Regions from separate parts of the Homo sapiens genome. Here regions 1 and 2 are each linked to region 3. Evidence: fine-mapped expression QTL. A gene starts in region 3. Each other region holds a variant in brackets. All regions are shown on one strand. Distances are between the middles of the regions. Region 1 holds the start of LOC103021295 (a long non-coding RNA gene). Region 2 overlaps RBBP5 (RB binding protein 5, histone lysine methyltransferase complex subunit). Region 3 holds the start of DSTYK (dual serine/threonine and tyrosine protein kinase).

The links. PIP is the estimated chance that this variant, and not a neighbour inherited with it, causes the effect.
Region 1: its variant is the best candidate, but not a certain one, in a credible set for the expression of DSTYK in skeletal muscle (FUSION, PIP 0.56).
Region 2: its variant is the best candidate, but not a certain one, in a credible set for the expression of DSTYK in nasal epithelium (TOPMed, PIP 0.50).

What each region holds. Positions count from the first base shown.
Region 1 is chr1:205,955,484-205,960,823 of GRCh38, reverse strand. All of the region lies in intron 2 of SLC26A9-AS1 (SLC26A9 and RAB7B antisense RNA 1), which reads right to left. LOC103021295 (a long non-coding RNA gene) reads right to left here and starts at 2,899. Exons shown (of 1, transcript NR_110982.2): 1 at 2,436-2,899. The variant T/AAAT (reference allele first, on the strand shown) is at 2,368.
Region 2 is chr1:205,104,085-205,109,084 of GRCh38, reverse strand. RBBP5 (RB binding protein 5, histone lysine methyltransferase complex subunit) reads left to right here. Exons shown (of 14, transcript NM_005057.4): 4 at 3,917-4,057. Among named protein-coding and RNA genes, the nearest start is that of RBBP5, 15 kb to the left of the region's middle. RefSeq lists cis regulatory regions at 2,854, 4,195 and enhancers at 2,782-2,926, 4,123-4,267. The variant G/A (reference allele first, on the strand shown) is at 1,996.
Region 3 is chr1:205,208,543-205,213,882 of GRCh38, reverse strand. It overlaps DSTYK (dual serine/threonine and tyrosine protein kinase), which reads left to right and starts at 2,181. Exons shown (of 13, transcript NM_015375.3): 1 at 2,181-2,612. The coding sequence starts at 2,348. RefSeq lists silencers at 2,252-2,381, 2,802-2,851.

The sequences.
Region 1 (5,340 bases), 750 kb before region 3:
TCAGCCTCAGCCAGCCTGGCCTTGCCACTGGCCCTCGGACACCCAACTCTCAACCCCCCCACAACACACCCTCCCTCTAACATACCCAAATCATAAGCACCTTTCAAAGCCCAGCTCAACCCCAGCCCTCAAGAGCCCCTGCAGACTGCAGTGCTCAATGAGTACTCCCCACATCAGGGTCACCCATCAGTGTTCCCTCCCCAACTAGACCCCACACTGCCCAAAAGCAAAATCACATTCCAAAAAAGTCAAAAGACGCACAACACAAACTGTCCTCACATCTGTCCCTTGCTGGGGACTGGGAAGGAGCAGCATCAGGTAGTGTCACAGTCCCCAACACAGAAATCCAGGGTCAGGGGTGTTCCAGCTGGTGGCCTGCCAGTCTCCGTGTTCCCAGTTCTGACTGGCAGGGGCTATGGTGCGAGAGAGCTGGCCACTGGCAGAGCCTATTTTCTCACAACCAAATGATAGCCCAAGGACTTGGGGCACTTTGCAGAACATTTTACTTTTCAGAGCACTTCGAATGTGAGAGGCTGGAAGGGGCCTTCGGAACCATCTTGTCCAACACTCCTGGCTCCATGTTACAGATGAGGAAACAGCACAGATGCACCCATAGTCTCCTGGGCTGAGGGGCAGAGCTAAAGTCCAGGTTTCTAGAACCCTGATCTTACTTTGAACCGCCTGGGGTTGGGGGGAGGTAGAACAAACAGCTATGGAATTGACAGAGCCTCCAACGTTCACACTTAATTTAGTCTTCCTCCCTAACCTGTGACATAGGTATTACTGAGTGCATTCTAATTTTCCTGTTGCAGGAGGAGGCTCAGAGTGGTTATGGCACCTGCCTAAGGTCACACAGCAGGTACGTCTGGAGTTCTGCCTCTGGGAGCCAAGCATGCCAAGCTTTATTAGAGACCTGAGCTCTTAGTGTTTCACTGGGCTTGAGGAAAGGGCCTCTTTGCCTCCTAAGTGGGAGTGGGAGTGTAGCCACGGTGGGAGGTAGGAGGGAGCCTCACTTTATAAATTCTTATTCTCATTGCATCCTGAGAGGACTTCCCTCAAGGTTACACAGCTAGTGTAAGTTACTGGCAACTTTTGGGGCTCAGCAACATGGAGCTCTTCTGCTTTTGGGTGGTTGCCCCTCTCTGCAGCTCTCTACCTGTATATAAGAGCCCCATGGTGGGGACACCTGTGGTGACCCAGAACTTATTCACTCACTCACTCATTCAACAAATACCTGTTGAGCACCAACCATGTGCTAGGCAGTGTGCTAGACACTGAGGATGCTAAAGTGAATGGGACAGTCAGACAGAGCCAGAGGGGCTGGGGCACCTAGGGAGGGAACTGGGGTCCACCTTGGCCCCCACCTCTTGGCCACTAACCTATACTATATTCTAGTCGGGGAGACAGATGGTTAAACAGAGAGGAGTTGATCACTCATTGTGCTGGGTGCTATGACAGCGCTGTGCAAGGGGTCAAGGAGCCCAGGGGAAGGTACCTGTTCCAGGCTGGGGGACGACAGAAAGAGAAAGTTTGCTAAGTTCAGAAGGCTGTGCAGAAGTCAGCCTGGCAAAAGAGAAGAAAGGGCATTCCAGGAAGCAGGGCAGACAGTATGGTCAAAGGTGTGGGGAAACAAACAGCTTGGCACATTAAGCTGTTTGTACACACTTAAGAGAAAGATCTGAAAGGGTGTACACCCAACTGCTAAGGCGGATTATCTGAGGAAAATGAGATTATTTAGACGTGCTTTTTTATTTGCACACTACTATCTTGTTTGAATTTTTATAGTGGGCAAAAAATTACTTTCATAAGCAGAAAAATATATAACTAATAAAGAGCATTCTCTGTATGATGGAACTTTGAGAAGCGTGATGTTTGGGAACAGAAAATTGGAGGCGGTACTGCTGGGAGTGGAGGAGAAAAGCCAGAGAGCTGTCACAAGTCTCTGGACCCAGGGAAGCAGCAGGTTGACACCAGCCTCCAGGCAGTGGCCTGGGGTGTTCATTAATTGGGCGATTCCTTTCCTGGGAAGCTGCAGGGCAGACCCAGGGGGCTGGGGGGAGATGTCAGTCAGTTCAAACTGATGTCTTCTAGCTAAAGCTCCAGGGAGTAAGCAGATCTTTGGGGTTCTGGTTGCCCGCCGCCCGATCCCAAGCTAAAACTCTCATCTTCCTTTGGGCAGGAGTCATGCTAGAGTGAGGCTGAGAGGTGGTTCCCACCAGCAGCATCAGGGGTTTCTAACTGGGCTGTCTTTCTTGACCTCTGACTTTTTTCACCATCTCACTCTCCAGCCTGGACCTGGGCTGGACTGCTAAAGGACAAAATGCCTGAAGCTCTTTGAACAAGGTCATTTGCAAAAAAAAAAAAAAA[T/AAAT]CTTGACCTTTCAAATGAGTTTTTACAGACTTCCATCATTTTTCTTTTTTTTTTTTTTTTTTTTTTTTTTATTGAAAAAAAATTATATTTTGGAAGAACTCACTACATAAGGTGACAGAATTCCAAAATCAAATTACATGAAAATATACATCGCAATTTCTTTGTACAATAGGTGAGAAAAATCTGCAGTATAGAAGAATAGAGGCAGAGAAATATGAAGGACTAAGGAGAAGGGTATGAGAGTAAATAGGATTTGTAATAGCAAACCCAGAAGTTAAGTAGAAAGCCTGTAGCTGTGCATGCTTCATTTATCCAACCTTAATACCAGGCAACTGAAGAGGGAAAAGTCAGATTTGCTATTGTTTGGGGAAATTTTCAGTAAGTTGAATTAAGAACCATCTATTTTTAGTTCTCAGGGGTAATGACTGGGATCAAGAGCTCACAACGGCCAATAAATGTTATTGCTATATCCAATCCAAGAGGTGGGTGCAACTAGAATACAAAAAGGACAAAGCACCTAGTGATGACTCCTTCGGACTTCCATCATTTTTCTCTAGAAAATCCTCTATTTGTCCTTTGCCAGAGGAGGCAGAAATAACTAGCAAACTGTAACTCAGGTGTGTCATTCAAACACACACACATTTAGTTTCTTCTCCATTCAGTGTGTCCCATAGGAAATGGCTGCAATTTGAGGAGTGACAACACTATCCCCAATTCAGAATAACCTCTTCTTCACTGGTGCTTGGAATTTTGTTTTGGGGTTATCATCTTCATCCTAAAGCTTGTTTGTTCAGTCTCCCGCTTTTCTTTTTTTTTTTTTTTTTTCTTTTTTCCTACAGTGGATGCCGTGGAATGGTTAGGAGGGGTGATTTCCCAACCATTTAATGCAGGTTCGTTGGTGCATATTTTCATGCGTGGAAGTCACAGGCCGAGATGGTATTATCAGTTCCACTGCTTAATATGAGCTCAGTAAGGAAATACAGTGCCTGCGGACAAGCTAGGGGTTCTGGCTGATGTACATAACCAATACTTTCTTCTCACCTTGGGGACTGTGGAGAGTCTCCCCAAAAAAAGATTGGAAGAATCCAGTTGTTCAGAGGAAGAGGGGCTTGACTTGGGGCTGAGACCGAGACGCACATGGAGCCAGGCCCCAGTGTGACCATTTTGCTATTGGCTAGAAAAATGTAGAGCTGCACTCTCTGCCAGCTCAGGGCTGCCTTCTAGAGCCTCAAGAGGTTAGGAGCAGCTCTGGGAGACAGGGATGAGTCTTCTACAGTGACACTGCTGATAAAGATGATGGGCCTCATGGACGAGGTAGAAACAGTAGGCAGACAGAGGGACGTTTCAGAGAGTATCTGATTTTAAAAGTGATGATGTGGAAAATCATCAATTACCAATCAAAGTCATGTCATGTGTGCCAGAAAACACAGAACACATATTTGGGAGGCAAGTGGGGAAAGAAGGCAGGGTTGGGGGTAAGGCAGGGCTCCGCTGACCTAGCTGTGTGCTTGAAGCGGCTGAGGAGCTTTTACACAATGCTCACAACCAGGTCCCACCGAGGCACAGTCAACCTGAATTTCTTGGGATAAGGCCTAAGAATCTGTATTTTTAAAAACTCCTCCAGAAGGTTCTGAAATACAGCCAAGTCAGATAAACCTAACTGTGGTTAAGATGAAGATGGGGGCTGGAGGAACAACCACAGGGTTAGGGCAGGAGGGAGAAGGGAGCCTAGGTCTGGAAGGGAAGGACTGGAGGGAACAGGCTGGCAGCAGGTAGCTCTGTGCCCATTTCTGGTGGCCTCCTGACGCCAAGAGAGCCAGTGAAGAAAGAACCAGAACCCCTTCACTCTGAGTTGCTTCAGAAGCAAGCTTCCTGTGGCTCAGTCAGCCTCCCCAGGGGCAGAGGCCATTTGGGGAGGAGGAACACCCCCTCTTCCAACCAAAGCCCTGATAAAAGGAACAACTAGGGTTTCCCTTCGGGACCAGCAGGATGGACTAAGAGCAATTTTCTGGGTCCCTCAGGCCACATATACCATTTGTCATTTCCCATCAGTGCCTAAAATGCCTTTGCCAAAAGCTGTGCCTCTCCCGCTAAGCCATGCCATGGTGGGTCAGGGAACTCCAAGTGAAGGGAAAACTGTGACACAGAACCTAGGGCCTCGGTTTTACTCGAAGGTGGGGAGGGGAGAACTGCTTTCGTATCACAGATAAACTTGGGCATAGTGGGGAGTGGATGCCTCATCCACATGCACTTTGTTTAATTAAAGACAGGATCAGTTGGGCACAGTGGCTCACTTTGAGAGGCCGAGGGGAGCAGATCTCTTGAGCCCAGGAGTTCGAGATCAGCCCAGACAATTTAGTGAGACCCTGTATAAAGAAAGAGAAGAAAGAAGGAAAGAAAGAAAGGAAGGAAGAAAGGAAGGAAGAAAGGAAGGAAGGAAAGAAAAGGAAGGGAGAAAGAAAGAGAAAGAGAGAAAGAAAGGCAGTCTTGCTAGGTTGCCCAGGCTGGTCTCAAACTCCCAGCATCAAGTGATCCTCTCACCTCTGCCTCCTGTGTATCTGGGATTACAGGCATGAGCCACTGTACCCAGCTTACATGCACTTTTGAGGTAATATATAATTCTTCAATGACACATCTCCTGAAACTGTTCCAACCTCTCCTCTCCCTTTTCCTAATTTTTGTTATTTTGGGTCTTCTGGTTGCTGCCTTTGGGACTTTCAATATCTTTAAATAAATCTATCTATCTATCTATCTATCTATCTATCTATCTATCTATCTATTTTCCTTCCCTCCTTTCCTTCCTTCCTTTCTTCCTTCCTTCCTTTCTTCCTTCCTTCCTTTCTTCCTTCCTTGCTTCTTTTCTTCCTTCCTTCCTTTCCTTATTTCTTATTATTAATGCATCAGCTCTAGATAAAGCCTATCACCCCGCCTCTGGGAGGGATGTGGGAATCTATATCCTCTGCCCCTCCTCCA
Region 2 (5,000 bases), 100 kb after region 3:
GCTTTAACTTAATCCCTCTATATTTATAACCTTAGCTTACCCCTGCCTTCCTCTGTTCCTAGAGTCCTGAGTCTGGCAGTATATTTATTTTGTCTCTGATATAAATAATTTTTTGAGCACTTATTATGTACCAGGCATTGAGCACTTATTATGTATCAGGCATTGAGTACTTATTATGTGCCAAGCCAAGAATTCTGTATGTATTAAATTCTTTCAACAGCCTTCTGCAGGTCGATACCGTTTTTATTCCTGTGTTATAGATGAGGAAATTGAAGCCCATAAAGCTTAAGTAACGTGCTAAGATCACACAGCTAGGAGGTAGTAATGTCTAGGCTTGAGTAGAAGTCTGACTTTTGAGCCATATTCTTAACCATGGAGATTATATTGCCTGCTGAGTTTCTCAATAGCACCTCCTCTTGATTTCAAAACCTGGGTAAAGTATCGGTTTTGGGTTACTTTTTTACTTGTTCCATTTGTTTTTTGTTTTTGTTTCCTGCCTTCCTGTGGGCTACTTGGACAAGTTTTTAGAATTCCATTTTGCTTTATCTGTAGTGTTTTTTGAGTGTATACCCTTGTGTAGCTTTAGTGGTTACTAGGTTTTACATCATACATTTATAACTTACCACAGTCTACTGGTGATAAGTTGTATTGGTGAACATTTTACCAGTTCAAGTGAAGTGTAGAAACCTTACCTTCCTGTTGTCCCCTTGTCCTTTCTTGTGTGTAATATAATTGTCTTAAATATTTGCTCTACATACATTGACACCCACATAAGACAGTGTTAAAATGTGTGTTTCAAACATCAAAACTCAAGAAGAGAAAAAGTAATTTTTTTTTTTTTTGAGACGGATTCATGCTCTGTCACCCAGGCTGGAGTGCAATGCTGCGATATCTGCTCACTGCAACCTCCGCCTCCCAAGTTCAAGTGATTCTCCAGCCTCAGCCTCCCGAGTAGCTGGGACTACAGGCGTGCACTACCACACCCAGCTAATTTTTGTATTTTTAGTAGAGACCGGGTTTCACCATGTTGACCAGGATGGTCTCGATCTCTTGACCTCATGATCCGCCCGCCTTGACCTCCTAAAGTGCTGGGATTACAGGCGTGAGCCACAGCGCCTGCCTTTTTTTTTTTTTTTTTGAGACAGATTTTTGCTCTTGTTACCCAGGCTGGAGTGCAATAGCGCGATCTCGGCTCACTGCAACCTCTGCCTCCTGGTTTCAAGCGATTCTTTAGCCTCAGGCTCCCAAGTAGCTGGGATTATAGGCATGTGCTACCATGCCTGGCTAATTTTTGTATTTTTAGTAGAGACGGGTTTTCAGCATGTTGGCCAGGCTGGTCTCCAACTGCCAACCTCAGGTGATCCACCTACCTTGGCCTCCCAAAGTACTGGGATTATAGGCGTGAGCCACCGCACCTGGCTTAGAAAAAGTAATTTTATCTACCCATATATTTATACTCTTTTCATTGTTCATTCTTCCTTCCTGATGTTCTAAACCCTTCCTTTAATCTTTTCCGAACATTATGTAGCCATTCTTTAGAGTATGTCTGCTAGCAACAAGTGTCTCAGTTTACCCGTTTATTCCTGGAATGACAGTTCTTTTCTTTCAGTGCTTGAAAAATGTGCCACTTCCTTCTGGCCTTCATGGTTTCTGATGAGAAATCCCTTTTCATTCATATTGTTGTTCCCCTATAGATAAGGCATCATTTTTCTCTTGCAGCTTTCAAGATTTTTTCATTGTCTTTAGTTTTCAGAAGTTTGTATTTCTCGGAGTGGATTTCTTTGGGCTCATCCTAGTTGATGTTCTTGAATCTGTAGGTTTTGTATCTCTTGCCAGATTTAGGAAATTTTCAGCCATTATTTCTTCAAATAACCTTAACATCCCAGTCTGTATTCTCTCCTTCCAGGATTCTGATGACATGAATATTACATCTTTTGTTATAGTTCTACAGGTCTCTGAGGCTCTGTGTGTATAGATACATATGTGTGTGTGTGT[G/A]TATATATATATATGTATACACACACACACACATACATATACACACATATATACACACAGACACATATATATATATGTCTATGGTAATTTTTATTCCATCTTCCAGTTTGCTAATTCTTTCCCTTTTTTTCCTCCATTGGCTGCTGAATTCATCTATTGAGTTTATTTCTGTTACTATATTTTTCAGTTCTAAAATTCCCATTTGGTTCTTCTCTGTATCTTCTGTTTCTTTGCTAAGATTTTCTGGGCTTTTTTCCCCATCTGTTTCAGGCATGTTCATAATTGTTGAAGCATTTTTATGATGGCTGCATTATAATCCTTGTCAGATAATTCTAACATTTATGTCATTTCTGTATTAGTGTCTATTGATTGTCTTTTCTTATTCGAGTTGAGATTTTCTTTGTTCTTGAGTTGACAAGTGATTTTCAGTTGAAACCTGGGCATTTTGGGTATTATGAGACTGTAGATCTTATTTATTTTTTACTTTTTCTTGAGACAGAGTCTCACTCTGTTGCCTAGGCTGGAGCCCAGTGGCGCCATCTTGGGTCACTGCAACTTCTGCCTCCCAGGTTCAAGCGATTCTCCTGCCTCAAGCCTCCCGAGTAGCTGGGACTACAGGTGCACACCACCATGCCCGGCTAATTTTTTGTATTTTTAGTAGACAACGGAGTTTCACCATGTCGGCCAGGCTGGTCTCAAACTCTGGGCCTCAAGTGATTTGCCTGCCTTGGCCTCCCAAAGTGCTGGGATTACAGGTGTGAGCCATTGCGCCCGTCCTATAGATGTTATTTAAATCTTTTAGTTTAGCAGGCCTCCTCTGATACTGCACAGGGAAATGGAGTGTACCATCTTGTTATTCCCAGAGGTGGGTGAAAGTCCAGGTTTCTTCTTACTTGGCCTCATTACTGCTGGGTGGGATTGGAAGTTTAGGCTCTCCACTAGGTCTCTGCTGATAACATCCTGTCTGGGAAGGATAGGAATTCCTTGTTCCTTCTCTCTATGTGTCCTTCTCTGACACCATGGTGGTGCGACCTCATTACTGCTGGTGGTAATGCAAATCTGATTCTCTACTGATCCTTCTCTGACACCACCCCAGTGAGGTGGGGAGGGTGCCTTGTTATAGCTGGATAAAGGTGAAGTCTAGGCTATCTGCTTCAACCTGGCTAAGAGGGGGATTTGCATTTCTTTTCTGTGATGTTTGGCTGGCGTAGGTTGGTTATTGTCTTAAAGTTTTCTGTCTTGCTGGGCTGTCCTTTTCTGGTCCCTTAGCTCTTCTTGGGGCTTTTTATGCGTGCCCACTGGCATTACCAGGTTGTTGGCTTCTCCTTCACCCAGAACGGGGAACATGAGGCAGAAAATTCAGGGATTTCACTACTGTGTCATCCTTAAGATTCTACAGTCTCTGGCTTGCCTGTCCTTTGTCTACCTTTCAGAACCTTTTTTGTCTGTTTTATATATTATGTCCAGTGTGTTTATCTGTACTTACCAGGAGGAATTAATTCTTTCTCAGTTCTTTTAAAATTATTTTAAATAACAGATACTTATCATTTTTTTGTTTTGTTTATACCATGATGGTGCTACTTCTGAGATGACTTCAGAAAGTTCAAATATATCAACTCTTAAAGCGCAGCTGATTTTTTAGACTCTTCTAAGATGTTTTAATCTCTTATTTCACTGAGTCACTTTATAGTTTTATCTTGAAATATTATGAGCTTCCATTACTAGATAGTAAAATGTCATGAAAACCTTCTTATTAATTGCCTAGTTGGAAAAGCTTATGGATTTGAGTATACGTGGAACAAAACCAAAAACATTGTTGACCTGTGCAGTTGCAGCAATGTGTGTGACTTACACAGTTTATTCATGAGAGTGGTATGATATACTTAGAATATGTGCTAAATTACCCCTTTTTTTTCCTCAGCTGGAGCCGAGATGGTCATAAACTCGTGAGTGCTTCCACTGATAACATAGTGTCACAGTGGGATGTTCTTTCAGGCGACTGTGACCAGAGGTTTCGATTCCCTTCACCCATCTTAAAAGTCCAATATCATCCACGAGATCAGTATGTTTAAGCTATTTCTCTCCTGGGGTGGGGTCTAATTCTATATGGATTAGCTCTGGGCTCATGATAATTTTAGTTTATGGTTTTAGAAGGCAAATACACATCTCTTCAAACCTTCTACATAAAATAATCTTTCCATCTAGGTTGGCTCTACTGAATACATTTCTTTCTTTCTTTCTTTCTTTTTTTTGAGACAGAGTCCTGCTCTGTCACCCAGGCTGGAGTGCAGTGGCGCCATCTTGGCTCACACAACCTCTGCCTCCTGGGTTCAAGATTCTCCTGCCTCAGCCTCTCGAGTAGCTGGGACTGCAGGTGCGTGCCACCATGCCTGGCTAATTTTTGTATTTTTAGCAGAGACAGAGTATCCCCATGTTGGCCAGGTTGGTCTCGAACTCCTGACCTCGTGATCTGTCCACCTCAGCCTCCCAAAGTGCTGGAATTACAGGCATGAGCCACTGCGCCTGGCCCTGAATGCGTTTTTTTTAATTTAAATTTTAATTTTTTTGAGATGGAGTCTCGCTGCGACGCTCTAGCTGGAGTGCAATGGCACAGTCTCAGCTTACTGCACCCTCCTCCTCCTGTTTTCAAGCGATTCTCTTGCCTCGGCCTCCCAAGTAGCTGGGATTACAGGTGCAGGCACCACATCCGGCTAAGTTTTTGTATTTTTAGTAGAGATGGGGTTTCACCATGTTGGCCAGGCTGGTCTCGAACTCCTGACCTCAAGTGATCTGCCCGCCTCAGCCTCCCCAAAGTGCTGGGATTACAGGCGTGAGCCACTGCACCTGGCCTCTTACTTTTTTTTAATGATCATGTTTTATTTTGTCAAGACTAATTTTACTCAGAATTTTCCCTGTTATTAGACCTGTGGATTTTATGCTTTTTCACTGTTTCAAATTTGCTTGGGTGGGAGAATTGATGAGGGTATGGACAGGGATCAGGGAAA
Region 3 (5,340 bases):
GGCTCATTGTCACTTGCATTTTTTAAGATTTTAAATAGCAAAAAATTATTGCCTTTCTCAACAGATCAAAAATAGGTATGAGATATACTTACACATATTCAAAATGATGTACATAGATTAGTTCTTGCAGTATTGTTTTTAATATCAAAAGACTGCAAAAAACCTAAAGGTCCGCCAATAGAAGACTTGTTAAATAAAACATGCCAATCCATGTGGTAGTATGTTACACAGTTAAAAAGAATGAAACAGACCTTTATGTTTTGGTACAGAAGTCTGCAAGGCCATAATCAAATATGTATTACGTATGCTATCATTTGTATTTAAAATACATGCATACACATATATAAATACATATATAGGATCTATTTATACATGATTTATATCTACAACAGTGGTTGCCTCCTGGGAGGGGAACTAGGTGACTGGGAGGTGAACAGAAAAACTAAGAAAGACTTAGTTTTTCCTTATATATCCTTTGCACCATTTGAATTTTATACCACATTCGTGTATTACTTATTTTGAAAATAAATGCAAAGTACTAAGGAATAGTTTTTAAAAGGGTGGGCTTTGTGATATTTACCTGAAATAATGCCCTCTCTGATTACTTCCACCTATCTAAATTTTGCCCCTTCTTCAAGATAGATTCCTTTTCTGGATAACTCCAGCTTGAGTGCTCTTATCTGATCTCCTGTGCTAGAAATTCGTGTGTGTGGCAAATCATTACACATTGCTTTCTTACAGCTCTTCTATTTTAAAAATAGTATCTACTTTGTATTAAAATTCCCATTTTTAATTTTCATTTCTATTTTACTGAACCTTTGGGGATTGCATGGGGAATATAATCTTGCAAAAGAAGAATGGCTGATGGAAAATACGTGACCAAGTAAAAGGCAGAAGGGGGAGTGGGTAAATGGGAAGGAGCATGAGGCTCCCTCCTTGCAGTCAGCCCTCACAGACATTTATCAAATACAGATTCATTTGAATTAGTGACCCCTTTTTATAAAATGCTAATGCCCCTGGAAAGGTAAGGCCTTCACATCTTACAACAATTAATCCAAATATCACGACATCATTTGGCTAAGAACACCTGGGTGTTCTGCGATGAGAGGTCAGGAGAAGTAAAATTTCTGAAGCAGGACTCACAAAAATTTAAAACCAAAAGGGCTTAAAGATCTGCCATTCTAAACCCTTACTTTATAGAAGATGAAACGGGGTCTTGCCCGAGATCACAATGCAAGGTATAGGAAGAGTCCAGATCCAAACTCAAATCTCCTCTTAATTTCAGTCAAGGAACTACATCATGTAGCCTATCAGAGAAGAAGTCTGGCCTAGGTAAAAGACGGTGTCTTTCTATAGCAAGAAAGATACAGATGGGCTCTGTGCCTGGTGAAGAGGGGAGAGATAATTCAGGAAGCACAAAAGAGGTGACGTCAAGTTTTGCCCCCTTTGTAATTGTGTCCAGGAGTCTGTGACTGTGTGTGTCAATGAAAGTCCTCCATATTAGCAGAAACCAAGTTAAGATAATCAGAAATAGTTTGGAAGGCTACAAACCTCAACTTCCCCTTACCCAGTCCGGTCTCCCTACTTCAGGAACCCACTGAAGTTCAGCTTACAGCTCTTGTTGATCCTTTCACACCCTTCCTTTCCAAGTCTGGAGAAGGAAAGTTGGAAAAGGGGAACGCAATGCAAATATAAGAGATTTCCCTATTTCCAGGGTACTTTCAGCCGATTTCCAGGGTACTTTTAGCCGATTCCCCAGTATCTACTGTATCCGAAACACTAGAGAGCCACTTAGGGTAGCCATGGAGATGACTGTCTTCAGTCTTGTTTCCTTCCTTTTCTCTACTATTAACATCTTTCGCTACGATTTCGGTAAGGCCCCCCCACTTCTGCTGGCACTCAGGTCCTGCAGCTCCTCCCTCTCCTCAGGGACGCTCATAGAGGGATTAGGAACACTTTTTAAAATGAAGAGAGCGCGAAAACACAAGAACGAGTGAGGGTTTTCTCCAAAAGGGATCAGTCCCATCCACAGCCTCCCCTTCTCCAGCCTTGAGGTTTTGGCGTTTGGTCCCAGCCCGGACTGCAAGTCCCAGGAGACCCCGCGGCGAGGGTGTCCTCCAGCGATCCTTCCCTCACGCTTCTGGATAGTGGAGAGAAAGGTTCCGATAGCGGCGCACTGCGGTTTGGTTTGTTTGCAACGGCAGTGACGGAGGTTGGGAGCCAGGCTGACTGCAGGCGGGGGCGTCAGGAGGCGGATTCCTCCTCCCTTCGGCACTGGGGGGCGGGGAGGAGGGAGGCCGGGCCTGCGGCCGGGGACCGAGCCGCAAAGACAGAGCGGGCAGAGGCGATGGAGGGCGACGGGGTGCCATGGGGCAGCGAGCCCGTCTCGGGTCCCGGCCCCGGCGGCGGCGGAATGATCCGCGAGCTGTGCCGGGGCTTCGGCCGCTACCGCCGCTACCTGGGACGGCTGCGACAGAACCTGCGCGAGACCCAGAAGTTCTTCCGCGACATCAAGTGCTCCCACAACCACACTTGTCTCTCCTCCCTCACGGGCGGCGGCGGGGCCGAGCGCGGCCCTGCAGGCGATGTCGCCGAAACCGGGCTGCAGGCGGGTAAGGAGGGCAGCCCGGAGGGAGAGAGGGCAGGAGAGGCAAATCGGAGGACGGACCGCACCCCTGCCCTGCAAAACAAGCCCGAGTCTTCTCGGGCAGGCGGAAAGGGGCAGTCGTGTCGTGTGGCCGGGTCCCCGGGCATGGGCCGGCCGGATCTGGGATACCTTGGGAGGGCATCCTTCTGAGGAGGGGAGGAAGGGGCCCGCTGGGGGACCGGGAGCCAGGGGCAACCGAGGGCCGGAGTTCCCGGAGCGGGACCCCGGGGACCGGGGTGTGCGCTGACGGACCTGGGGCGGGCCGGCGTTCGGAGAGGGTAGCAGTTAATCCGAGGAGTGGGGAAAGTTGCTCTGAGTTGGGGGCGGGCGCGTGCGCCGTTGTGGGTCAGAGCCCCAGTTTAGAGATGGAGCAGAGGCGGCAGCGAGTCCCGGGAGTCCGAGGAGGCCATGGGACTGTAGTCGGGTGTGTGGGTTTGATGATGTATGTGAAATGTGTTCACACCAATCATGAGGCAGCTCTGTGAAGAGGGGACATTCTCTAAATAGGGTTGGGGGTCGCCAGAGGAAATCATATCTGATGGGTGCCACGGAATTGCCAGAGATGTTGCTCATGCTTAAGGTGAAGAAGAGAGGGAAGGGATCATTTTGGTCCTGAGCCAATGGAGAACTAGCTACTCTTGTTCTTTCTTGCATGATTCTTTCTAGGATGTGCCAGAGGCCCCCAAACACTTAAAATCGTGCAGTCTTTAATCTTTCCTAACGTCTTGCTTCCTTTTAAACTGCTGTTGGTGGGGAACTGGAGGATTTGTTAACTACTGCGTCTAATTAGGAAATAACTTTAGATTGGAAGGGAGAAGGGACTGACATTCCACGTAGATAGATATCTTGGGGACAAAACAGCAAAGAAGTCTGTGGGTTTAATTTAGTGATTCTCAAACTAAAGTGTGTATTAAACTCACCCCAGGGGCGTATTAAAAATGCCATGTCTCGTGCTCTAGCTCATAAATTCCTATTGAATAGGTGTGTGAAGTGGGTCCTAAGAATCTAATTTAACATGAAAAGACCCTGAAGAGGCCGGGCGCGGTGGCTCACGTCTGTAATCCCAGCACTTTGGGAGGCAGAGGCGGGGCGGATCACTTGAGGTCAGGAATTCGGGACCAGCCTGGCCAACATGGTGAAACCCCGTCTCTACCAAAAATATAAGAAACTAGCCAGGTGTGGTGGTTGAGGCCTGTAATCTCAGCCACTGGGGAGGCTGAGGCAGGAGAATCGCTTGAAACCAGGCGGCGGAGGTTGCAGTGAGCAGAGATTGTGCCACTGCACTCCACCCTGTGCGACGGAGCAAGACTCTGTCTCAATAATAATAATAATAATAATAATAGTAATAATAAAAGACACTGGGGAAGGTGATGCAGGTGGTCCGTTAAAATACTTTCAGAACCATGAATTTAGATGCTCATAGCAAATTTGAACACAAGGCTTAGAACTGGATGAATTGTTCTGACTTTGCGTGTTAGGTCTTATATTCCCAAAGTTTTGCGCTTAATATCCTACATCCGACTGGGAATCCAGAAATGGTGATAAAAATAAGATACTAAGATCATGACAGTATCAGAAAAACTAGTAGTTTCAGAAAAACTAGTCATCCCCCTCCTTTTATGTTACAAGGTAAAATAAGGCTTTTTAAATTCCTATCCAAACCAACTAAATGGAACGGTATCATTTAGGACCCTGTCATGATCTTAGTATCTTATTTTTATCACCATTTCTGGGGATGACTAGTTTTTCTGAAACTAGTCTTTGACATCTTACGTCCAGAAATATACTGTCCTGGAATGGACTTGTAGAGAGAACCAGTATCTGTGAGGCTACCAGAAAACAGCTGATGGGAAGGGCTAATGTTTTCTGAGACGATCCCCAGAATGTGTACTTTCACCCGCACCCATAACAGTGCTTTCCAGAGGTGTCTCCTGCTCGGAAGTTTCTCTCACAGCTTATCTTAAAAAGCCCTTTATTGCTGTTTTTATTTTAAAACAACTATTTATTTTAGACTTGCTTCTAAAACAAAGAGAATTGATTAACCTCAGAGAGATGGAGGTTTTCAAGGCACTTTGGTTGGCTGTTGTTTTTATTCTTTAAAAAACAACTTAAGACATACAAATATACCTTTGCATTTCACTTCATTGGCTTTTCCAGTTGACTGCATCATGAACTGATCTTTGCGTATTTAACTCTCTTCACCATCGGGAGTCTGTCCATCCCAGATAAAAACCTGGGAGGGTGCAGATGGCAGGAGTGGGAGCAATTTGGTTTTGTTCCATAAAATGCTTTTCTTCCTTTCAGCGTGGAGAGTTTGGGGGTAAAAATGCACCAAGGAAAGTTAGTGAAGGGACACTTAATATGTATATTTGAGGGATGCATTTTCCTAGCTGTTTAGGTGGTCATGTCAGAAAGTAGAAATCACTCCTAAAAAGACAACTAGCTCTTGTTCTCCCCATTTACAGGCCATCTTTGTAAGGTCAAGTTATTCAGAGACTGTCTCAACTTTCTTTTTTAAATTTTTTGTAAAGATGGGGTCTCACTTTGTTGCCCAGGCTGGTCTCAAACTCATGGCCTCAAACGATCCTTCCAACTCAACCTCCCAAAGTGCTGGAATTACAGTAATCAGCCACCACACCCAGTCCTCAACTTTCTTTTATGAATGTTAGTCTCTGATTAATAGGAACTTGGGT